Homo sapiens: one gene and its partners. The gene in region 5 interacts genetically with the main gene of each other region. Each region holds a gene or a part of one and is shown on either strand. Other genes may lie near its edges. The genes, in order: VPS45, SEC31A, B3GNT2, DEPDC5, RABGEF1, SLC39A9 and CAND1.

Region 1 (3,500 bases), on a different chromosome or scaffold from region 5:
CCAGGTACAAAACCCTTTCTTGGCATAATAGAAGGATAATTTTAAGTGATATTCATCAAAATACAGATAGGGAAGTAAAAACATGGTCCATTTATTTGCCTCCTTATTTTTAGCTATTCTTGGTTTTGCTTTGTATTTCCTGGTGTTTTGGTATCATGATTCTTCCATCCACTGTCATCATAACTCTTCTGCTTCATCTCTCCTGTACCTTTCTGCCAGTACCTCCACCCCTAATCAAGACAGCTTCTTAATTCTGTAGATTCTATTTCCCTGTGTTTCCTTCTGTCTCCTCATTTCCATGCTTACAGCCATTGCCTTGGTCTAGATCCTAATCTCTTGCAAGAATATTGAAATAGTCATCTACTTCGTTCCCTACTTTTTATTTCTTCTCACTCCAAATGTTCCACAAGTACAATTTCCTAAAGCACAGCTCTATCTTATTACTCTTGGCTTAAAAAACTTCATTGGTTCCCATTTGCCTACTAGGTTAAAAAGAAACTCCTGAACTTGGCATCCAAGAGCCTTCACAATGTGGGCTAAACCTCTTATAAAACCTAGAGTTCACCACTTACATAGATAATGCCACATGGTTTCCTGCCAGCATGCTTTTACTGTGACTGCTTTCTAAACTCTAGAATGTTTGGAATACCTTCTCTTCCCATCTTCACCTATCAAAATACTGCTGTTAAAACCACTCAATCTGGCCGGGCACGGTCGCTCACGCCTGTAATCCCAGCACTTTGGGAGGCCAAGGTGGCTGGATCACCTGAGGTCAAGAGTTCAAGACTAACCTGGCCAACATGGTGAAGCCCCGTCTCTACTAAAACTACAAAAAAATTAGCCGGGTGTGGTTGCACACACCTGTAGTCCCAGCTACTTGGGAGGCTGAGGCAGGAGAATCATTTGAACCCAGGAGGCGAAGGTTGCAGTAAGCTGAGATCATGCCACTGCACTCCAGCCAGGGCGACAGAGCAAGACTCCGTCTCCAAAAATAAATAAATAAATAAATAAAATGATTTATATGAATAATAGCAAAGAATAAAAAAAAGAAGAGCCGGGCGCGGTGACTCACACCTATAATCCCAGCACTTTGGGAGGTCGAGGTGGGTAGATCACCTGAGGTCCTGAGTTTGAGACCAGCCTGGCCAACATGATGAAACCCTGTCTCTACTAAAAATACAAAAAATTAGCTGGACGTGGTGGCAGATGCCTGTAATCCCAGCTACTCAGGATGCTGAGGCAGGAGAATCACTTGAACCTGGGAGGCAGAGGTTGCAGTGAACCGAGATCATGCCACTGTCCTCCAGCCTGGGCAACGAGAGCGAAACTCTTGTCTCAAAAAAAAAAAAAAACACTCAAAAGCCATCTCCAACATCCAGCCATTCTTCAACATCTCGAAGCCTGTATTCTTTCAGTCAGATATTGTTCTTATCTCCTGAAAATCCCTGTAGACTTGTAGACCTTTGTGTCTCTCTCATGTCTCATGCTGTACTTGCCATGTTGTAGCTTTGGTTGTTTACATCCTCTCCTACGTTACATATTTCTTCAAGGCAGACTGAGTCTCACCAGTGTTTTTTCTCCTTCAAGTATAAGAACAGTGCACATAGCGGGTGCTCTATTAATAGTGATTTTGTATGTGTGTATGTATTTATTGAGACAGAGTCTCTCTCTGTCACCCAGATTGGCGTGATCTCAGCTCACTGCAACCTCCGCCTCCCAGGTTCAAGCAATTCTCATGCCCCAGCTTCCTGAGTAGTTGGGATCACAGGTGCACACCCCCACACCTGGCTAATTTTTGTATTAAATATTTTTAGTACAGACAAGGTTTCTGTCTAAATATTGGCCAGGCTGGTCTCGAATTCCTGACCTCAAGTGATCTGCCCGACTCGGCCTCCCAAAGTGCTAAGATGACAGGCGTGAGCCACCACGCCCGGCTGTGACTTTGTATTTACAGAGAAAGGCACAGTCTATGTTTCAGTTTCTTCCCAGCTTGTACTAATGTTAATGCTAAGGGAAATCTGTGGAGTGAAACTTCTCTGTAGTATAAAATAGCCTTGTATTCCTAAAATTCAAAGTAATATATGTTCACCAAAGAAACTTTTGATAATATCAAAAAGTAGAAAGAAAATTAATTGCCTATTATTCTGTCTCCCAAAGAAAAGCAACTATTTATCCCACAGATTTCACTGGGGACTTCTTTTGTGCCACGTACTAAACTAAGTACTAGAGATAAAAGGTTAAAAGTTACAATTTCTGTCCTCAAAGAGCTCATGGTCCAATTATGAGAAAAATAAACATAATTTTAATTGTAGAGTAAGTGCTAGAAGCATGTACAAGAAGCTATCCATAAAAGCATAAAACATTTTGTTGTACGTTTTTTTTTTTTTGAGATGGAGTTTTGCTCTTATTGTCCAGGCTGGAGTGCAATGGTGTGATCTTGGCTCACTACAACCTCCGCCTCCTGGGTTCAAGTGATTCCCTGCCTCAGCCTCCTGAGTAGCTTGGATTACAGGCATGTGCCACCATGCTCGGCTAGTTTTGTATTTTTAGTAGAGATGGGGTTTCACCATGTTGGTCAGGCCGGTCTCGAACTCCCGACCTTAAGTGATCCACCCACCTCAGCCTCCCAAAGTGCTGGGATTACAGGCATGAGCCACCATGCCCAGCCTTGTTGTACTTATTTTAAGTGCGACTTAATGGAACTTGCTTTTTCAAGAATTCCTTTGGCAAATCTTTTAGGAAATAAGCACCTTCTTTTATAACCTTCTAAATTATTTCTTAATAAATCTAGTTTTCTTAAGATAAAATATGTATATAAATATTTCTAGCATTTAGATTCTAGATGCAGAAGGGAACATGCTAGAAAATACTTCATTTTGTCTAACAGACCTATGACTGAAAGTAATCTATTCTCCATAATTGGTGAAAAGGGAAAATTTGGAGATTTCTCATTTCCAGTTTTACCAAATAAATTCTCAATTTGTGAGACTGGAAACCAGTCCTTCCTCTCATCTCCCCTTAGGTAAAAATATAAAATAAAATGGGTTCAAAGGTAAGTTTCTGAATATCCCAGTGTTTTGATCAACTCACAAGGTTTTTCTGATAATATTAGTGTTCCCAGGACAAATATAGTACCACTCAGATCTGCAAGAACACACTTCTCATGCTGCAGAAAACCATAGAAGCATACAGGAAATGGTACAGCTTGTAACTGCAGTACCAATATAGCTCTATCTGTGAAGCCAAAAATATACTCTTAATTCACAGGCAAAAAATTGGAGCTAATAATAGCTCTAATTTGTTTTCTTTCTATCAAGAATATTAATCTTGCTGCCCTTTTTCCAAAAGTATGAAATCTAAAAGTATTTTGACTTTTCTTCAGTGTTTAATCAATTAAAATGACAGTCTTAATGCTTATAGCACAAAGTATGAATAAAATTTAACTCGAGAATCTTCATGTAAAGAAGACTAGTTAAAGAATGTTATCAGTTTTTATTTGT
Region 2 (3,500 bases), on a different chromosome or scaffold from region 5:
AATTATCCTGGTTGAATAAAGCTTACTTTTGAACAGTAATTTCTGTAAATACAAACTTATGTCCAAAGGTTAAACTGATACAAAACTCAAACTATGTGGAATATTCTATGTCCTAAAATTCTTTCCCAAAATTATTACAAAATATAAATTCTTTAATTTTATACTTTAACCTAACTGTATTCAAGACTGCTTTACCTTTGAAAAACCAGTACCGTATAAAGAAACAGACATTCCAGTGGAGGCAAAATGACCAACCAGGAAATTCTATTTGTTATTCTAATCTAACTCCTCTTAAAGTAAAAGGAAAAATGCCTCCAACCTCTCTCCTCTATTCCTCTTCCTCTTTTTTCATTTTCCTTAACTAGATCTACTATAGATGTTAAATATTCTGTTTTCATTATAGTAAACTCTATGTACTCATCTTCAAAATAGGTGTGCTGACTATGTCGCTCTCCTCTAAACAGACCTATTATTATTTTTTTTTACTTATTAAAAATGTATTTCATATTACACTTTTCAAAGCAGAGAAGGAAAAACTCTGGACATAAGTTAGGTTGTATGCTCTTTATAAGGCTTCTTAATTTCATGATGAATTGCTGAAATCACACTTTTTCAATTGTTTCTTTAATAGGAGGACAGATTTAGAATATAAAGGAACAGTTAAATTTGCAGATAATGAAATAATATAGCTTTAAACAGCAACTTTACCTTCAAAAAGGACCACACATTTTTCTCAAATTCAGTCTGAGAAGCATCAATTTTTTTTTGGCAATAATTGATAAATCCTTGTGACTGCACAGCCTGCTGAAGTTGGTCTGATCGGCTGAGGAACTCCTTTTCTGTTACAACCTGACTAATGAACACATGGTGCTGCTGCTGCTGCTGCTCAGCTCCCTGATGAGAAGGCATTCTGACATTCTCAAACGTAACCAGTTTGCCTCCAAACTATAAAAGAGAGAATGAACAAACTCAGTGTTAACCCAAGGATATGGCCAAAAAAAGTGCTTATAAAGTGGCCTAAACAGATAATCTGGATGAAATTAGTTGATACAACCTCTCATGCGCCACAGTCTGACACCACTTCAATTTCTGTTCTAGATGAAATGTACTTTTTTGGTTTTTTGGTTTTTTTTTTTTTGAGACAGAGTTTCGCTCTTAGTCACCCAGGCTGGAGTGCAAAGGTGGGATCTTGGCTCACTACAACCTCTGCCTCCTGGGTTCACGTGATTCTCCTGCCTCAGCCTCCTGAGTAGCTGGGATTACAGGTGCCGGCCACCATGCCTGGCTAACTTTTGTATGTTTAGTAGACAGGGTTTCACCATGTTGGCCAGGCTGGTCTTGAACTCCTAACCTCAAGTGATCCACCCAGATAGAGAAGACCAGATAGGACGATGAGAAGATTAAGCAGATCCAAAGAACAGACTTACGAGTGACATAAAACATATTCAAAGGTCCATTTTAGGAAGATTAATCTTGGAATATGTAGTAGAGATTAGAGGGGGAAAAGACAAGCAACAAATATGAAATCAAGCTATTAGAAGTTTGGCATGAAAGAATTAGGCAAGGTATCAGCAATGTAAAAGGAAGAAACAAACAAAAAGTGCTAGAGAGGATGTGGAGAAACTAGAACCCTTGTGCACCACTAGTGAGAATGTAAAATGGTAAAACGGCTATAAAATGGTATGGAGGTTCTTCAAAAACTTAAAAATAGAACCATCCTATGATCCAGCAATCCCACTTCTGGGTATATGTCCCAAAAAACTGAAAGCAGGATCCCAAAATGATAATTACAAACCCATGTTCACCACAGCATTTATTCACAATAGCCAAAAGGTGGAAGCAACCAAAATGACCATCAAATGAATGGATAAAAAAAAATGTGGTATATATATATATATATATATATATATATATATATATATATATATATACAATGCAATATTATTTGGCCTCTAAAAAGAAGTAAATTCTGTCACACTACAACACAGATAAACCTTGAGGACATTAAGCTAAGTAAAATAAGCCAGCCACAAAAAGACAAGTACTGCATGATTCCATTTATATGAGTAATTTAAAGTAGAAAACTCCTAGCAACAAAGTAGAATGTGGTTACCAGGGATTCAAGGGAAACAGGAAATGGGGAGCTGTTGTTCAAGGGCACAGAGTTTCAGTTTTGCAAGATGAGAAAGTTCTAGAGATCTGTTGCACAACAACGTGTATATAGTTAACACTACTGTAGTATATATTTAAAAATGGTTGTAGTGTATATTTTAAAATGGTTAAGATAGTAAATTTTATATTATGCATTTTTTACAATTAAAATTTTATATTATGCATTTTTTACCATTAAAAAAAGCTGGCAATTAAAAAAGAAAGCTAAAAGGATGAAGAAGAGGGAGGACACTCCCTGCAAAAAGAAAAGAAAAAAAGAAGAAAAGAAAAGAAAAAGAAGGGAGGGAGGGAGGGAAAGAGAGACAGAGGGAGGGAAAGAGAGACAGAGAGAGAGAGAAGGAAGACAAATTTAAAAGGGAGGAGGGCCGGGTGCAGTGACTCATGCCTGTAATCCCAGCACTTTGGGAGGCCGAAGCGGGTGGATCACCTGAGGTCAGGAGTTCAAGACCAGGCCAGTCAACATGGTAAAACCCCATCTCTACTAAAAATACAAAAACCAGCCAGGTGTGGTGGCACGTGCTTGTAATCCCAGCTACCCAGGAGGCTGAGGCAGGAGAATCGCTTGAACCAAGGAGGCGGAGGTTGCAGTGAGCCAAGGTTGTGCCACTGCACTCCAGCCTGTACAACAGAGTGAGACTGTCTCAAAAAAACAAACAAACAAACAAAAAAATGGAGGAGGGGAGGAATATAAAGTGTTGGCTACACAACAACAATGTAAATGTACTTAATGCCATTGAACTGTATATTTAAAAATGAACAAAATGATCAATTTTATGTATATTTTACCATGATTTTTAAAAAAGGGAAAAAAAAGAGTAGGTTCCAATTTTTCAGAGAAACCATTTTGAATGATGAAATACCCACAAGTACATCTCAAATCCCAACTTAAACCCTGATTGCTTCCATCAGAGTGACTCTATAATAACACTTTGGTATAAAAAGTCCTTTGTGCCTATGGACCATAAAAACAAAATCCACCTACTGAAAAAGAAGCACCAACAGGCCTTCGAATCCACTTGGGCGGCTTCTTCAGAGGCAGCACTATACTATGCTGAGCAGTCTGCTGTGGAATTTGTAACGGAGGAAGGGGCTGTCCTGTGCCAAAGGGATCAAGATTCCCAAAAGATGATGAAAGCTAAAAAAGATAATAATAACATAAGCATCCGACCATACACAAAGTTTCATTTTTTTCCAGTCATATCCAAAAAAATTTTTGATCACAATTGTCCAATTAACCAGCATTGTTAATCAGTGAAGTCATTTCAAAATATTACACAACACATACTTTTTTCAGGCATTATAATAGAAAACTTTAACACTTCCTATTA
Region 3 (2,559 bases), on a different chromosome or scaffold from region 5:
CACTCCACATTTTGCCAGAAGGCAAGCAATCCGGGAATCCTGGGGCCAAGAAAGCAACGCAGGGAACCAAACGGTGGTGCGAGTCTTCCTGCTGGGCCAGACACCCCCAGAGGACAACCACCCCGACCTTTCAGATATGCTGAAATTTGAGAGTGAGAAGCACCAAGACATTCTTATGTGGAACTACAGAGACACTTTCTTCAACTTGTCTCTGAAGGAAGTGCTGTTTCTCAGGTGGGTAAGTACTTCCTGCCCAGACACTGAGTTTGTTTTCAAGGGCGATGACGATGTTTTTGTGAACACCCATCACATCCTGAATTACTTGAATAGTTTATCCAAGACCAAAGCCAAAGATCTCTTCATAGGTGATGTGATCCACAATGCTGGACCTCATCGGGATAAGAAGCTGAAGTACTACATCCCAGAAGTTGTTTACTCTGGCCTCTACCCACCCTATGCAGGGGGAGGGGGGTTCCTCTACTCCGGCCACCTGGCCCTGAGGCTGTACCATATCACTGACCAGGTCCATCTCTACCCCATTGATGACGTTTATACTGGAATGTGCCTTCAGAAACTCGGCCTCGTTCCAGAGAAACACAAAGGCTTCAGGACATTTGATATCGAGGAGAAAAACAAAAATAACATCTGCTCCTATGTAGATCTGATGTTAGTACATAGTAGAAAACCTCAAGAGATGATTGATATTTGGTCTCAGTTGCAGAGTGCTCATTTAAAATGCTAAAATAGATACAAACTCAATTTTGCATAGAAAGGTGTATTTTGAATAGTTCCCATGTTGTGTTCTCACATTAGAGTAATTTCTATATTAAACCATGAAAATTGCCTTTATGAGTGATACCCATTTGAGGGCCTCTAAACCCTTCAATTTGGTACTCACGTGAAGAGGGAAAGCGGAAGATGGTAATTTTTTTTTATGGATGATATGGCAGGATGATTGGTTCTGATCTTACCGGCTAGTGGTCATTTTTAAAAAACTTGTACCCTCTTATCTGAAATCCTGTTTCTGGAATTTGGCCATTTTAAGTGATTTTGTTTGCCCTCTTCTATAATATTCCTACTTCCCATAATAATGACTGATTTATTTGTAATTCAGGTATTTATAAACCTATTGGCTACAAAGACTTTGTTAAACATTATCCAGTGGTTTTCGTGAAATGGAATTATGTTTATTTTTATGGGATTTGGGTAAATTTTAAATTGTCTAGAAAACTGAAATTTCAGTTGTCAGTTGTGGAATTCAGTTTTTCAATTGTGGAAATTTCCTGCCACCCCAACAGTATTTTTGTGTGTTAATTAATTTTGCAAAATGAGAATCATGGTGTGACACTCATCTAATTTATCTTGTTGTGATGTTATGGTCATAATAAGGAGAAAGAGGGTTTAATTTTTCTTGTATTTGGTTTCCTGGTGGTATCATAGTGTAATTTTAGTATTTGAAAATCAGTGTGATTCCTTAATGGCCAACTGAAGATTGAATTGCCGCTAACAACCATATCGTGTTAGTGAATTTTCAATATGGACCAGGAAGGCATATGTATTTTGAACTTGAGTGAAAAGGTTGAAGTTACAGACTTTTGCATAGATGGTTTGTCAATTTAAAATTCCAGAATTTATTATTGCCATATTTTCACATGCTGCTTATACAAGATTATTATTGAGTAGTAACTGCTTCCCTGTCTATGTAGAAGTGCCTGTGTTTTTATTTATTGTTCAGATCAAAGACCAAAACATTTTCTTAAATATATTTTATGTAATATTTTATTTGTATACAGTGTTGTTGATGAAATATTTAACTAGAGCATGATATTTTAAATGTTAAGGTGTAACATATGTTAAATAAAACTGTTATTTTTGAATTTTAAAATTTGTTTTTTGGGGGTATGAACTACTAGAGTTTAAAATTCTGCCAAACTATTACTTATATGTACTATTGTGTAACATACTTTCTTGAAATATTTTTGTTTATAGAATTGAAGGTTCTTATCAGATGGGATACTGGGGACTATAAACAATGGAAATAAAGCCACTGTATTTTTAATTTTTTGTGTAATGTGTAATCTATAATCCTTTTGTTTCCCATATTTGAGAACATTTTTCCCTGAAAGAGGCCAGTTTCCTCCCCAGAAACCATTACAGTAGTGTTGAACTATCACTGTCTCTCAGTGCGTCATCCATCTTTGCATTTAAAATCCCCAAAGTGCTTTCCCATTTAAAGTCTTTAAAGAAAAGTGAGAATATTTATTTATGCTTCCATTTTCAGTGAGTATAAATAATTTAATTAGGGAGTGGTGTGGCATTGTAAAGATTGTGTTATCCTAAGCCATTTCTATTTTGGAGTTTGTAGCCACAAAGATGAAATATAGAATCAGCCTTGACTACTCAATTTCCTTTCATAGACCCATGTTGAGAAGACACTACTAACGTCCAGTGGGAAACAAGTAGACAATTGATGAAGCTCAAAAAACAGAAGGGTTAGTGTTGTAAGAGCAAACAGTCTAATCCTGTTTGGAATGTGGAAGCCATTTCTGAGCAAGTATG
Region 4 (3,500 bases), on a different chromosome or scaffold from region 5:
AGGCAATCTGCACTGCCACTTGCATCAAGGGCACGTCATCCCTGAGCTTCATGGGGTTTGTTTTTTCAACTGTGGCAAAATACACATAACAAAAAATTTATCACATTAACCTATTTTATTTTTTTGAGACAAGGTCTTGCTGTGTTGCCCAGGCTAGGGTGCAGTGGCACTATCAAGGCTCACTGTAGCCACGACCTCCTGGGCTCAAGCACTTCGGCCTCCTGAGTAGCTAGGACTATAGGGGTATGTCACCATGCCCAGTTAATTTTATTTTTTTTTATTTATTTATTTTTTGAGACAGTTTCACTCTTGTTGCCCAGGCTGGAGTGCAATGGCTTGATCTTGGCTCACTGCAACCTCCACCTCCTGGGTTCAAGCGATTCTCCAGCCTCAGTCTCCCAAGTAGTTGGGATTACAGGCACGCACCACCACACCCAGCTAATTTTTGTATTTTTAGTAGAGACAGGATTTTGCCATGCTGGCCAGGCTGGTCTCGAACTCCTGACCTCAGGTGATCTGCCAACCTCGGCCTCCCAAATTGCTGGGATTACAGGCATGAGCCACCGCGCCCAGTCAACCCTGTCTCTTTACAAAGAAAAAAAAAAAGAAAAAGGGAGAGAGAGAGAAAGGGCAGAAAGTGTTAAAATACACATACACATCCTTGCCCAAGGATGCAAAGATGGAAATCCAAAGCCCACTCTCTGACCTGAAGTCTTCAGAGCCGGCAGAACAGATATACTGATCTAAGTAATTCCACTTGTACTCCTCCAGCCGTTCGTGGGAGAATTCCACCCAGCAGGAGACGAACTCTGAGTCTGAGTGGGAAGGACAGAGGCTGTAGGTGTAGTGGATCTGGGCAGATTCATAAGGATACCTGCAAAATAAAGGGCAGGTCCCCAAATTCAAAAGAGTTAGAGACAAATTCCTGCCAATTCTTATTTTCTATCTCTATACACTTAGAACCATCCTTGACATTTACCCCTCAACTGTAGTAACCAACTTATCCCAGGGAACGGTACTAGAAATTTCTCAGATCTTCTTAAACTCTTTCCTTCTTCTCTCCTCACAATCTTTATTTGAAATAGGCTTGTCATGAATCATGCTAAACATTATAAGATGAATCAAATCCCTTTTGGAAGTAGGTAAGCTATAACCCTAAAATAACCCTAGAAACAAACAAACAAAACTCCAAAAGAAAAACCAACCACTGAACTTCCTCAGTTTGAATGATGTACTATACACACAATTTAGTATGTGGCCATAATTCAGGACAATAACTGAAGACTTTAAATATCCAAATACTCACTTGGGAAGGTATCGCGTCACTGTGATCATCTTATCCTTCAGCGTCACTTTGTGGAACGTTCTGCCCATACTCAGCCAATACTGGTCCTCCTCCTCAGGGCGGTTTCGGGACACAAGGCCTAACAGAAAAATAATAATTTCCTCCATCTGTTTGAAGCTCATTCCTATAACAGACAATTGTTTCTCATCCATATAGATTCAGAAAACAATGTAACACTTTCTCTTAGGGGCAGTTTCATGGAAGAAAGTTATTCTTGGTTAAAAAAAACAAACAAAAAACTCCTGAGGTTGGCAGATTTTTCTGTTATTAAACCAACCAGGAGCAGATTAGAGCCTGAAGGTGCTAGCTGATAGCACCTAGATGGCACACTCAAAGCTGAACAACCTGATACCTCATCCTCTGGAGAGGAAAGTTCTGTAAGAGATGACTGTGTTACTAAAATGGAACTCTACTACACCAGCATAAGCTGCCCACCTTGGCATTCGAGGTTCTCACTCCAAGGTGGCAGCCAACCTAGCTTTCTGGTCCTAGCTCTCACTAATCCTAAACTGCTATACCAAGTTTCAGTCTAAAAGGACCATTTATTGATTTGCTGCAAATATTTGCTCATGTTGTTTCTTTTTTTTTTTTTTTTTTTGAGATGGAGTTTCGCTCTTGTTGCCCAAGCTGGAGTGCAATGGCCCGATCTCGGCTCACTGCAACCTCCACCTCCTGGGTTCAAGCAATTCTCCTGTCTCAGCCTCCCGAGTAGCTGGGATTACAGGCACGCTCCACCACCCCAGGCTAATTTCGTATTTTTAGTGGAGACGGGGTTTCTCCATGTTGGTCAGGCTGGTCTTGAACTCCCAACCTCAGATGATCCACTCGCCTCGGCCTCCCGAAGTGCTGGGATTACAGGCGTGAGCCACCGTGCTCAGCCTGCTCATGTTGTTTCTTTTGCATTCTCTTCCTGGGCCACCACTGAAATCCCAGATCATCTGAAGTCACCATCAAATGCTACTTCTTCCAGAAAGCCATCAGGCCCCATCAGCAGTCTGAATCCTACCTTGTATATAGTTCCTTGTGCGTATATCTGTCACCCCTTACAAATTAAAACTTCCAGGAGGCCAGGGCTCAAACGTTGTTCCTCCTTACATTTTTAGAAGCACCTGATAAAGTGCCATGTCCAGTATTAGCTGAACTGAACTGAACGCAGGAAAGAGGAAAATAATCAGGAATCAAGAAAATGACAAGTGTTCAAGAGAGTAAAAATCATGCCTCAAAGAACAACCAAGCCAAGCCAAGATTCCTTTGATCTAGAAATGAAAGGCAGTCCTCTTGAGGCAGGAGAACAGGGTCTGGAGGCAGGGAACCTAAGACTAATTCAGGCTGACTTCCTAGAACTAAATCAAAAGGAAAACCCCAACTTTCCACACCTAAGTAACAAAAGGACCGGAGGTTACTCCCTTCACAAACCACTCTCCGCTTTTTCTGTGAGGCAGATGGAAAACTGAAAGTGTCTCTGATTGGTTTGATTTTTACAACCAAACAGACGTTTGCATAGAAGTGTAACTTTGTAACTTCACTTCAGCAACCAATCAGACTGATTGCGAGCCACCACTTCATTTACATAGCGTGTACACCAAGTAACCAACGGGACACTTCTAGAAGGTATTTAAACCCTAAAAAATTCTGTAAAGGAGCCCTTGAGCCCCTATGCTCCAGCTCACTCCCACACTGTGGAGTGTACTTTCATTTTCAATAAATCTCTCCTTTTGCTGCTTCATTCTTTCCTTGCTTTGTTTGTGCATTTTGTCCAACTCTTTGAGGTGCCAAGAACCTGGACACCTTCCACTGGTAACACTCATTCAGCTCTGAGACAGTCACACAGTGACAGGCAGCATGTGAGCGGTCAAGAGGAGAGAGGAGGACAGCAGAGGCTGAAATAATATTCACTGTGAATGTGGAAATTTCCCCGATGGTGCCAAGGGAGTAGCAGGCCAGCTGCATACAAAACAGAAGCTACTCAGGGGACCCCAGGTCCAACCCCAGCACTTTCACTTGCCAGCTTGTGTGATCTTGGGCACCAAATCTCACTTTCTACAGCAAGAAAGAGGGCAAGCCCTCATCCAAGCATTCCTTCTTCATTCATGCAACAAACACTCTGCTGGCTGTTGGGAAGACAATGCCATGGGACAAGGTTCATGAGCATCTG
Region 5 (3,500 bases):
TGGAACAGTCAGCTGAATAAAAACTAAATAAAAAAAGAAGTACAAAAAAAAGAAAAAAAATTTATTCTATCTGCATTTGACCTTAGTTTAGTTTAATGCCCAAGAAACGAGACCATAATCCCTGAAAATAAAGGGGTAAAAGAGAACCTGCTCTTCTGAATGCCATCAAATTCATAAAACAATCTTACAAATCACTTTTACTACATTCCAATGTACCTTCGACAATCTGCATTTTACAAATGTATAGATGAATATTACAGTAAAATGTTAACTTTAAGGGGAAAACATCCCAATAAAAAGGCTCTTGGTTTCACTGACCTGTGATCGCCTTCACCACCATATCAGACACTTCTGGGATGTCTTCATTAACAGGGACACACAGCATCTGAGGCGTAACCCAGCGCAGGGCTCTAAAGAGAGAGAGACAGTAAACAAGAGCTCCAAGGATAAACTGTGGCCATTTGTCTTGTCACCTCCTTCAGTTTAGGGAAAGCCTGAGGCATCACTGACCACTCAATCCCAGGCCCACACACATCACCCCTGCAAGTACTACGAGCTCTAATGACGTGATGAAGCAGCTAGGATCCTAAAATGAGACTTCTGCATTTATCACAAGAATGGAAGGCCATCTTGCTGACTGAAATGACATTACGCAGTGCTACCAAGACTGAAATGCACTCAGTATCTGAAAGTGACCATTTGAGAATTGGCTGCTGCCTGTCCTCGCTGCCTACTGCGTTAATGTCCTTTTACACTCAGTCCTCAACTTCTTTCTTTTTTGAGATGGAGTCTCACTCTTGCCCAGGCTGGAGTGCCAATCTTGGCTCACTGCAGCCTCTGCATCCTGGGTTCAAGCAATTCTCCTGCCTCAGGCTCCCAAGCAGCCGGGACTACAGGCGCCCACCTCCATGCCCAGCTAATTTCTGTACTTTTACGAGACAGGGTTTCACCCTGCTGGCCAGGCTGGTCTCAAACTCCTGACCTCAGGTGATCTGCCTGCCTTGGCCTCCCAAAGTGCTGGGATTACAGGTGCGAGCCACCACACCTGGCCTCAACCCTCAACTTCTGAGGCACACTGGAGCTTGTATAGGAGGCCACGGGCAGGACCACCATGCCTGAATCACTGTGTGTTTCCTGGTCCCACCCTAACTGCACTCCAACTACCCTGCAGCAGGCCTGCCCTCTTGCTTGGTTACTGCTTCTGTTCTGCATCTTGGTCCAGGGCCCCTCTAGTTACTTCTGGCTCCTGACCTTGGGCTCCACATCTTCAGCCTGCCCAGTATCAACTCCTCACTTCAGCTATGAAACTTCCAATACAGATCTAGCAAGTACCAGCCCCTTGTCTGGAACCTGGGACTCCGAGTCCCTTCTCCCCTTAAAACACCTCATCAGCTCAGCCTTGGCCCTGTTCCCACACTTGGGTGGTCTCTTCCTCAGTGTCCACCGCAACTGGAGTACACAGTGCTGGGGCTCACCCCAGTGAGCCTGGAAGACTGGGTGCTGTGGGAAATGTCATCAATCCAATGCCAGTGAAAGATGTGACTAGGGAATGCTGAAAAATGCACACCCCTGGGAGGAATGAGGAAAGAGGACATCTACTGACTTGTTATTTTTTTGAGAAGGAGTCTTGCTCTGTTGCCCAGGCTGGAGTGTGGTAGCATGATCTCAGCTCACTGCAACCTCTGCCACCTGGATTCAAGCCATTCTCGTGCCTTAGCCTCCCAAGTAGCTGGGATCACAGGCGTGCGCCACCATGCCTGGCTAATTTTTGTATTTTTAGTAGAGACGGGGTTTTACCACGTTGCCTGGGCTACTCTTGAACTCCTGGCCTCAAGTGATCCTCCCAAAGTGCTGGGATTACAGGTATGAGCCACCGGGCCCAGCCGACATCCCCTGCCTTGATACCGATATTCACAGCTTCCCACTTGAGGAGATGGTAATGGACCAAGAACACAGTCCCCCTATTCCTTGGAGATTTCAGGGATTGAAAACAATCTCAAACACCAAACACAACTCTTACCAAAAGCTGCCTTGAGGGAGATGGATAGGTGAGGTCACCACATTCCTCGTCTTTCTTACACAACAGAGCTGCTTCCACTCTAAGGAAGCAGGAACATGAGCTATTGCTTTCCCTTAAGGTTTGAAACACAGGTGCATTATTTTCCCCCCAGTGTGTTCTTCCATTAGAAGGTAGTAACTACAAAGCAAAACAAAATAAGCAACTACCTGATTCTCTTTTGAATGGCAAGATCTTTCTTCTCATCATCAGTAGTTTCTGGACAGAATACATATTTATAGAGACGAGTCATGATGTACTTTTCAATCTGATCCATTATCTTCTCGACTCTTTCTGGAGGCACTGAAATAACCAGACAGAGAAAAGATCAAGATATATATATTTTTTCTCTCTCTTTTTTTTTTTTTTTGCAAACAAAGAGTCTGGCTCTGTCGCCCAGGTTGGAGTGCAGCAGCATGACCTTGGCTCACTGAAACCTCCACCTCCTGGGCTCGAGCCATTCTCCTACCTCAGCCTCCCAAGTAGCTGGGATCACAGGCACACGCCACCATGCCTGAATAATTTTTGTAGGTTTTTTCTGTGGAGATGGGGTTTTACCATGTTGCCCAGGCTGGTCTCGAACTCCTGGGCTCAAGCAATCTACCTGCCTCAGCCTCCCAAAGTACTAGGTTTATAGGTGTGAGCCAGAATGCCCGGCCAAGAGTATATTTTCATAGCACTGTCTACACAGCAAAAAACTAATTTACTAGAAATAAATTAAACACACTCAGAACAAAAGTATAAGAATGTTATATTTAAAAATACGCTTAAAAAAAAAACTTACCAGCTGGGTGCGGTGGCTCTACTCCTGTATTCCCAGCACTTTGGGAGGCTGAGGCAGGTGGATCGCCTGAGGTCAGGAGTTCAAGACCAGCCTGGCCAACATGGTGAAATCTCCTCTCTAATAAAAATACAAAAATTAGCTGGGTGTGGTGGCACGCACCTGTAATCCCAGCCACTCGGGGGCTGAGACAGGAGAATCACTTGAACCTGGGAGGCAGAGTTGCAGTGAGCCGAGGTCACACCACTGTACTCCAGCTTGGACGACAGAGTGATATTCTGTCTCGACAAAAACAAACAAACAAACAAACAAAAAAATCTTCTTCCAACTGTTGGGCTGCCTTCCACAGCAACCTCAGTTCTAACTGAAGTTGTCTGACAGGACCTAACAGTGTACACCCTGCCAAATGGGGAGACTTCAGCAAGGTCACTCCCTGTCCTACATTACAAAGGCATTTGCAACTCCCAAGACTGATGAATGCTGATGAAACTTATCCTTTCATTTTTCTGAGGTTTACCATAACATCGTAGAGCTCTCTGAGGTATACAAATGGAGATTTCTCTGACACACACATGTGCTAAGTATATCCTAAAGTCTAGTATCAGTGAAGGTTGAATCCATAAAGAATCCCTAAAAACTTGAAGCTCTTTTTTTTTTAAACTA
Region 6 (3,500 bases), on a different chromosome or scaffold from region 5:
TGGGTTGTTTGGCCCACGCACTGATACAATATTTGAATAAGTAGCCAAAGGATAAAATTCAGGAGACTTCATATAAAAATCCAGATTTCTAGCTTTGGAAAAATAGGAAGATTTGGTGTCATCAAATGATATGTGCCCTTTAGATGCCCACAGTTCTCACTTCTCCCTAATGACTCCCAGGCACTGACACTGAAGGTCAGCTGCCATATATCATGACACTGGGGCTGTCTTATTTTACTCCAGGCTTAATTCTCTGTTCAGCCTTATTTGATTTTATGATCCATTACCTACCTCTATCAGTCAGGGTCCTTTCATCAAAGAGAAAGCATAAAGTAATTTGAAGAGAGAAAGTTTAACATAAAGAATACCTACAAAAGGGGGCTGGGCATGGTGGCTCATACCTGTAATCCCAGCACTTCCGGAGGCCAAGGCGGGCTGATCAACTGAGGTCAGGAGTTTGAGAACAGCCTGGCCAACATGGCAAAACCCTGTCTCTACCAAAAATACAAAAATTAGCCGGGCGTGTTGGTAGGCAGCCGTAATCTCAGCTACTTGGGAGGCTGAGGCAGGAGAATCACTTGAACCCAAAGAGAGAGGTTGTGGTGAGCCAAGATCATACCACTGCACTCCTGCCTGGGCAACAGAGCAAGACTCCATCTCAAAATAAGAAAGAAAGAAAAAAGGAATACCTATAAAAGCATAAAAGGGGACTAGAATGATGAGGAATTGACTAAGAGAGAACCGTAAAGAATATAATAGCAGGGCCGGGTGCGGTGGCTCATGCCTGTAATCCCAGCACTTTGGGAGGCCGGATTCACCTGAGGTCGGGAGTTCAAGACTAGCCTGACCAACACGGAAAAACCCTGTCTCTACTAAAACTACAAAACTAGCCAGGCATGGTGGCAGGCGCCTGTAATCCCAGCTACTTGGGAGGCTGAGGCAGGAAAATCTCTTGAACCTGAGAGGAGGAGGTTGCAGTGAGCCGAGATCGTGCCATTGCACTCCAGCCTGGGCAACAACAGCAAAATTCTGTCTCAAAATAAAAAAAAAAAGAAAGAAAATTGGCCGGGCGCAGTGGCTCACGCCTGTAATCCCAGCACTTTGGGAGGCCTAGGCGGGCAGACCACCTGAGGTAAGGAGTTTGAGACCAACATGGAGAAACCCTGTCTCTAACTAAAAATACAAAATTAGTGGGGCGTGGTGGTGCATGCCTGTAATCCCAGCTACTTGGGAGGCTGAGGCAGGAGAATCACTTGAACCTGGGAGGCGGAGGTTATGGTGAGTCAAGATCATGCCATTGCAGTCCAGCCTGGGCAACAAGAGTGAAATTTGGAAGGAAGGAAAGAAGAAAGGAAGGAAGAAAGGAAGGAAGGAAGGAAGGAAGGAAGGGAAGGAAGGGAAGGAAGGAAAGGAAAGAAAGGAAGGAAGGAAATTAACGTCAGATAAATACAGGGTTTGCAATAGATAGTTTGATGTAATTATCTATTAGTTACCCTCAAGACCTTTTCATTTAAAAATGAATTTCCATGTAAGAATTTCCAGGGCTGGGTGTGGTGGCTCATGCCTGTAATCCCAGAACTTTGGGAGGCCGAGGCAGGCAGATCTCAAGGCCAGGAGATCCAGATCATCCTGGCTAACATGGTGAAACCTTGTCTCTACTAAAAATACAAAAAATTAGCTGGTTATGGTGGCACGCACCTGTAATCCCATCTACTGGGGGGGCTGAGGCAGGAGAATTGCTTGAACCTGGGAAGGGGAGGTTGCAGTGAGCTGAGATCACGCCACTGCACTCCAGCCTGGGCGACAGAGCAAGACTCCATCTCAAAAAAAAAAAAAAAAAAAACAAAGAATTTCCAGTCTAACTAATATTTATTTCCATTTTATTTCAATAAGTTAAAAACTGAATATTAGTATTCAAGGAAGACTGAGATTTCTGTAATTTCATTATAGGTTTTAAGAAATACCAGTACTCATACTTAGTACTACTACTTTTTTTTTTTTTTTTTAAGACAGTCTCGCTCTGTTGCCCAGGCTGGAGTGCCATGGTACAATCTCAGCTCACTGCAATCTCCGACTCCAAGGTTCAAGCAATTCTCCTGCCTCAGCCTCCCGAGTAGCTGGGATTACAGGCGTGAGCCACTGCGCTCAGCCCAGTGTGGAATTCCATACTGAGCTGAAGGGGATCTTATCATTCAACAAAAGTCTCATCATTAAATTCTTTAATTAGAGGAGAGGTTAAGACTATCATATACAGAAACATTCTGAATCCATTTCATGTCATCTTCTCTTGAAAAGGATGTCACTTCTTGAACAGCACAATTTACGACTAACCTGTGAGGATGTCAAGTGTGAAATTCATCTTGGATAGTTCACAATAGGAACTACTTCAGATTCCAAATTGGCAGGTGTTAATTTAAAAGGCATCTAAGACATATTAACTTATTTCTTATAGGTTTCAATGGTATTTGGAGACTGTTTACCTCTGGAGTTTCAAGTTCTACTCCACTGACTAGGCAGAAAGCATGAGATATACTGTGGAAGGTATGAAAGATGTTCCTAATTTGGGGAGCTAAAGGCATCAATTTAGGTAGATCCTATTTTCATTCCTTCTTTACACAGCATTCATTAGGAAAGGCAACATTTAGTAGTCAAGTGACTGATTTGGCAACAGGAATCAAAATGACTTAGTTCCAAATCACACCTCTACCAGAGTCTGTGACCTCTTCAAGCCTGAGTTTGCTCATTTGTAAAGTGAGGTTTAACAGTATCTCATAGTCTTGGTCCTGAGGATTAATAAGATAGTGCATATCATTGCCTGGTATACAGAAAGAGCTCAATAAACATTATTAATATTATTATGCAGATAAGTCTTAATTATGTTTATCAATATAGTATCCTGGAGAAAACAAAGTTTTTCAGGAAAATAATATTGAATCATATTGCAACCGGATTTTATTTGATCCAAACTTAGTTTTATCAAGGATCCTTATGAAACAATAATCTGTAGTTCAATCTGAGAAAAGACAAGCTGATGATTTCTTTCCAGATATGGATAAATTTACTGAGATTGCAAAGTTTAAAATTTTATAATTTACGTTCATTCATCTGAGACAGGGTCTCACTTGTTGCCCAGGTTGGTCTCAAACTCCTGGCCTCAAGCAAACTTCCAGCTTCAGCCTCCTAAAGCACTGGGATTACAGGTATAAGCCACCATGCCCGGCTCAAATCTTAGAATTTACAAATGAAATTCCAAACAGGTATAAAATCTCTTGTATTACCATAAGAGGGTAAGAGCAATGTACCAGACAATATAAAAGTCCTTAAAAATGTAACATTGTTAAATCTACTTCAAAGAGAACCTATTGTAGAGGCAGAAGCATACTGAATAAATCTGTTCTTCAGACACAATAAACCTTTGATTTGCGGGTAACTCAAACCCCTAAAGATACTTATTATGAATGAGTCAGTTATTATAATCAGACACTGATATGGTTTGGTTG
Region 7 (3,048 bases), on a different chromosome or scaffold from region 5:
CTGAGGGCCACACAGGGACCATCTCTTCGTGTGCATAGGGTGCCAATTCACCTCAGCCTTTAGCCACAGACCAAATACTTCATCCAGATAAGGGGTAGATGATAAGAACCTCAAATGGGATACTTAAAGCCCAGAAAACTTTGTAACTGGGCCCTTGAGCCACTTGCTCAGGCCCACTCCCACCCAGTAGAGTGCTTTCTCGCTTTCATAAAATTCCTGCTTTTGCTGCTTCATTCCTGCATTTCATTCCTCTGCTACTTTGCGCGTTTTGTTCAGTTCTTTGTTCAAAATGCCCAGGACCTGGACAATTCGTAGTCAAGCCCCTCCACTGGTAACACTAGATACATTAATAATTTGCCCAAAGTCCCACTCTCAAGAAGTGGTAGAACCAGATTTAAACCCAGGTTTAGAGCCTGAGCTTTTACAACTATATTATAATGTTTCTCAGTAAAGCATTACCAAAGACCAAGAAATAACAGATGCTTCAAGATGGCAAAAAATCTGATGTGCTTATATTTATTGTGTCAAAATTCTACTGAAATGACAGTAAATATTTTTTAAAAGGAATGAATCCAAAACCATATATAGAGCAAGAAGGAAGGCCCAAGAATTTTGGAAATTCTGACAAATTTCTAGAAGGCAGAAAGCTGGGGGCATCAGAGTACAGAAAGTCACAAACCAGACAAGGAGGGGTTACTTTTAGTCCAGACAAGTGACTCCAAGCTGAGTCTTTAGATACAGAAACTGGAACTACGTTGGCAGTATTCAGTTTGACATTAAGGGCTGTTTGTGAACAGCTGGACTAGTCGGCCCTTCCCATACCCTCAGTAACCATCAGCAATGGTATGGAGGAGGGGAATAGCAGTATCTGCACCAACGTTAACAGACAGACAGGTGCTTTTAAAAGGAATTTGACAATATTACGTGCCTGAAAATGGAGTCAGGTTCCAAACATGGGAGTTGGCCCTTGGATTATGCCCTCTTCATTACTTGTCCAGGGAAGACTTCCTGGAGTCCTTGACCTAACCTACAAGATGAAAAGCAGCCAGCTAAGTAAAACAAAAGAGAAGTCAAGTCATTCCAGGCAAAAGGCATAACTTGACCTTGAGCAAACTTGAGAAGGCAAGGGAAATATTTTATAGTTGTCAGAAGAAAAAGTTAGTCCTAGTTGTGAGAGATGCTGAGGCTGGTGGGGCAGGCAGTAACCAGATCTAGTTTGTACTTATCCTATGGGCAAAAGAGAGACAGTGAAGGATGTAGTGCAAAGATGAAATGGTCAGGACCATTGTTTTGCAGCTGTGTAGAGGAAGGACTGGGAATTAATGCCTTCTGGGTATTTTAATGTGGTGGTTTCCAAGGTGTGGCCTTGGGGAACAGCATTAGAACCTGGGAACGTCATAGAAATACAAATTACTGGTTTACTACAGCCTACTGAACCACAGCCTCTGGGTGTAGGGCCCAGCGATCTGTTTTAATAAGTCTTACAGGTGACTGTGATGCACACTCATTTGAAAACTATTCTTCTAAGAGCTCATTCCTCAAGACATTTCATCTCCTTTATGAATTGTTTCTGTCTCACTCATGTTGAATGGACCATACCCTCAATTATTAACCCCCAGTATCCCGTGTATACCTCTCATACAGCAGAATTTTATGGTGCTTCCTTATGTCAGTCTTCCCATGATAATCAGCAAGCTTCTTCATATCAAGTACAGTCTCAACAGCTTTTGTAGCCCTGGCAGCACCCTAAGCGCGTAATAAATTGGCTTGCTAAATGAATGAACACAAAAATAACGATTAGCAGGCATTTGCCGCAGTCCAGTCAATAGATAAGGAGGAAAAGAGGTCTTAAGCCAAAAGCATGAGAGATATTTAGGAAAGAGATATTTAGGAGATGGGCATGAGAGATATTTAGGAAATAAAAGGGACAGAATGCTAGTAAGAGTTAACAATTATATTACTTAGTATGTCCCAGGTACTGTTTTAAGTGCTTTATACAATGTTCCTATTTAATCCTCACAATAACCCTATAAGGTGCAAATATTTTAATTCCCATTTTATAGATAGGGAAAGTTGAGGTTAAATTATTTGCCCAAGTCTAACAGCTAACAGCCAGGATTCAAACTAATATGATATATGATGTCTATCTATCTGTAGAGTCCTTGTTTTTTTTGAGACAGGGTCTCGCTTTGTCACCCAGGCTGGAGTGCAGTGGTGCATGCAATCTTGGGTCACTGCAACCTCCACCTCCCAGGTTCAAGCAATTCCCCTGCCTCAGCCTCCCACACAGCTGGGACTACAGGCATGTGCCACCACGTCTAGCTAATTTCTTTGTGTTTTTTTAGCAAAGACGGGGTTTCGCCATGTTGGCCAGACTGGTCTCGAACTCTTGACCTCAAGCAATCCACCTGCCTTGGCCTCCCAGAGTCCTTGTTCTTTATCATATTCTGCCTCCAAACTCTTGCTAAGTGAGGCTTTTAGATTTCCAGTTTGAATGACTGGGTAAATGGGATGCCATCAGCAAAGAGACAGGAAAAACCAGGGCAAGATGATGACTTCAGCTTTAGATATGCTGTGTTTGAGATACCTTTATGAGATGTATAGCAGGTGGTTGGATATAATAGTCTGAAACAGGGGCATGGACTGGGCTAGATGTATAGATTAAGAAACTGGCTGGGGGACGTGGCTCACGCCTGTAATCCCAGCACTTTGGGAGGCCGAGGCGGGTGTATCACCTAAGATCAGGAGTTTGAAACCAGCCTGGCCAACATGGCAAAACTCCATCTCTACTAAAAATACAAAAATTAGCTGGGCATGGTGGCACACGCCTGTAATCACAGCTACTTGGGAGGCTGAGGCAGGAGAATAGCTAGAACCCGGGAGGCAGAGGTTGCAGTGAGCCGATATTGCGCCACTGCACTCCAGCCTGGGAGACAAAGCAAGACTCCATCAATCTCAAAAAAAAAAAAAAAAAAAAAAATTAAGAAAGAAAAAAAAAGAAAAAAGAAATCAACAACATGTGGCTGGGCAAGGAGGCACTTGCAATAA

Evidence for each region.
Region 1: changes in RABGEF1 (region 5) and VPS45 together harm fitness less than expected from each alone (positive genetic interaction), as found in Homo sapiens cells (one large-scale study listed by BioGRID).
Region 2: changes in RABGEF1 (region 5) and SEC31A together harm fitness less than expected from each alone (positive genetic interaction), as found in Homo sapiens cells (one large-scale study listed by BioGRID).
Region 3: changes in RABGEF1 (region 5) and B3GNT2 together harm fitness more than expected from each alone (negative genetic interaction), as found in Homo sapiens cells (one large-scale study listed by BioGRID).
Region 4: changes in RABGEF1 (region 5) and DEPDC5 together harm fitness less than expected from each alone (positive genetic interaction), as found in Homo sapiens cells (one large-scale study listed by BioGRID).
Region 6: changes in RABGEF1 (region 5) and SLC39A9 together harm fitness less than expected from each alone (positive genetic interaction), as found in Homo sapiens cells (one large-scale study listed by BioGRID).
Region 7: changes in RABGEF1 (region 5) and CAND1 together harm fitness more than expected from each alone (negative genetic interaction), as found in Homo sapiens cells (one large-scale study listed by BioGRID).

Annotation. Positions count from the first base shown.
Region 1 is NC_000001.11:150,077,776-150,081,275, forward strand, and holds part of VPS45 (vacuolar protein sorting-associated protein 45), read left to right. Parts: coding exon 1-4; intron 5-3,500. UniProt on the Homo sapiens protein: May play a role in vesicle-mediated protein trafficking from the Golgi stack through the trans-Golgi network.
Region 2 is NC_000004.12:82,863,654-82,867,153, forward strand, and holds part of SEC31A (protein transport protein Sec31A), read right to left. Parts: intron 3,308-3,500; coding exon 3,155-3,307; intron 946-3,154; coding exon 709-945; intron 1-708. UniProt on the Homo sapiens protein: Component of the coat protein complex II (COPII) which promotes the formation of transport vesicles from the endoplasmic reticulum (ER).
Region 3 is NC_000002.12:62,222,673-62,225,231, forward strand, and holds the end of B3GNT2 (N-acetyllactosaminide beta-1,3-N-acetylglucosaminyltransferase 2), read left to right. Parts: coding exon 1-742; 3' UTR 743-2,059; downstream 2,060-2,559. UniProt on the Homo sapiens protein: Beta-1,3-N-acetylglucosaminyltransferase involved in the synthesis of poly-N-acetyllactosamine. Catalyzes the initiation and elongation of poly-N-acetyllactosamine chains. Shows a marked preference for Gal(beta1-4)Glc(NAc)-based acceptors.
Region 4 is NC_000022.11:31,841,019-31,844,518, reverse strand, and holds part of DEPDC5 (GATOR1 complex protein DEPDC5), read right to left. Parts: intron 1,425-3,500; coding exon 1,307-1,424; intron 875-1,306; coding exon 707-874; intron 1-706. UniProt on the Homo sapiens protein: As a component of the GATOR1 complex functions as an inhibitor of the amino acid-sensing branch of the mTORC1 pathway.
Region 5 is NC_000007.14:66,796,233-66,799,732, reverse strand, and holds part of RABGEF1 (rab5 GDP/GTP exchange factor), read right to left. Parts: intron 3,116-3,500; exon of another isoform or gene 3,000-3,115; intron 2,958-2,999; coding exon of another isoform or gene 2,841-2,957; intron 2,360-2,840; coding exon 2,227-2,359; intron 411-2,226; coding exon 319-410; intron 1-318. UniProt on the Homo sapiens protein: Rab effector protein acting as linker between gamma-adaptin, RAB4A or RAB5A. Involved in endocytic membrane fusion and membrane trafficking of recycling endosomes. Stimulates nucleotide exchange on RAB5A. Can act as a ubiquitin ligase.
Region 6 is NC_000014.9:69,405,192-69,408,691, reverse strand, and holds part of SLC39A9 (zinc transporter ZIP9), read right to left. Parts: intron 1-3,500. UniProt on the Homo sapiens protein: Transports zinc ions across cell and organelle membranes into the cytoplasm and regulates intracellular zinc homeostasis. Participates in the zinc ions efflux out of the secretory compartments.
Region 7 is NC_000012.12:67,317,406-67,320,453, reverse strand, and holds the end of CAND1 (cullin-associated NEDD8-dissociated protein 1), read right to left. Parts: 3' UTR 501-3,048; downstream 1-500. UniProt on the Homo sapiens protein: Key assembly factor of SCF (SKP1-CUL1-F-box protein) E3 ubiquitin ligase complexes that promotes the exchange of the substrate-recognition F-box subunit in SCF complexes, thereby playing a key role in the cellular repertoire of SCF complexes.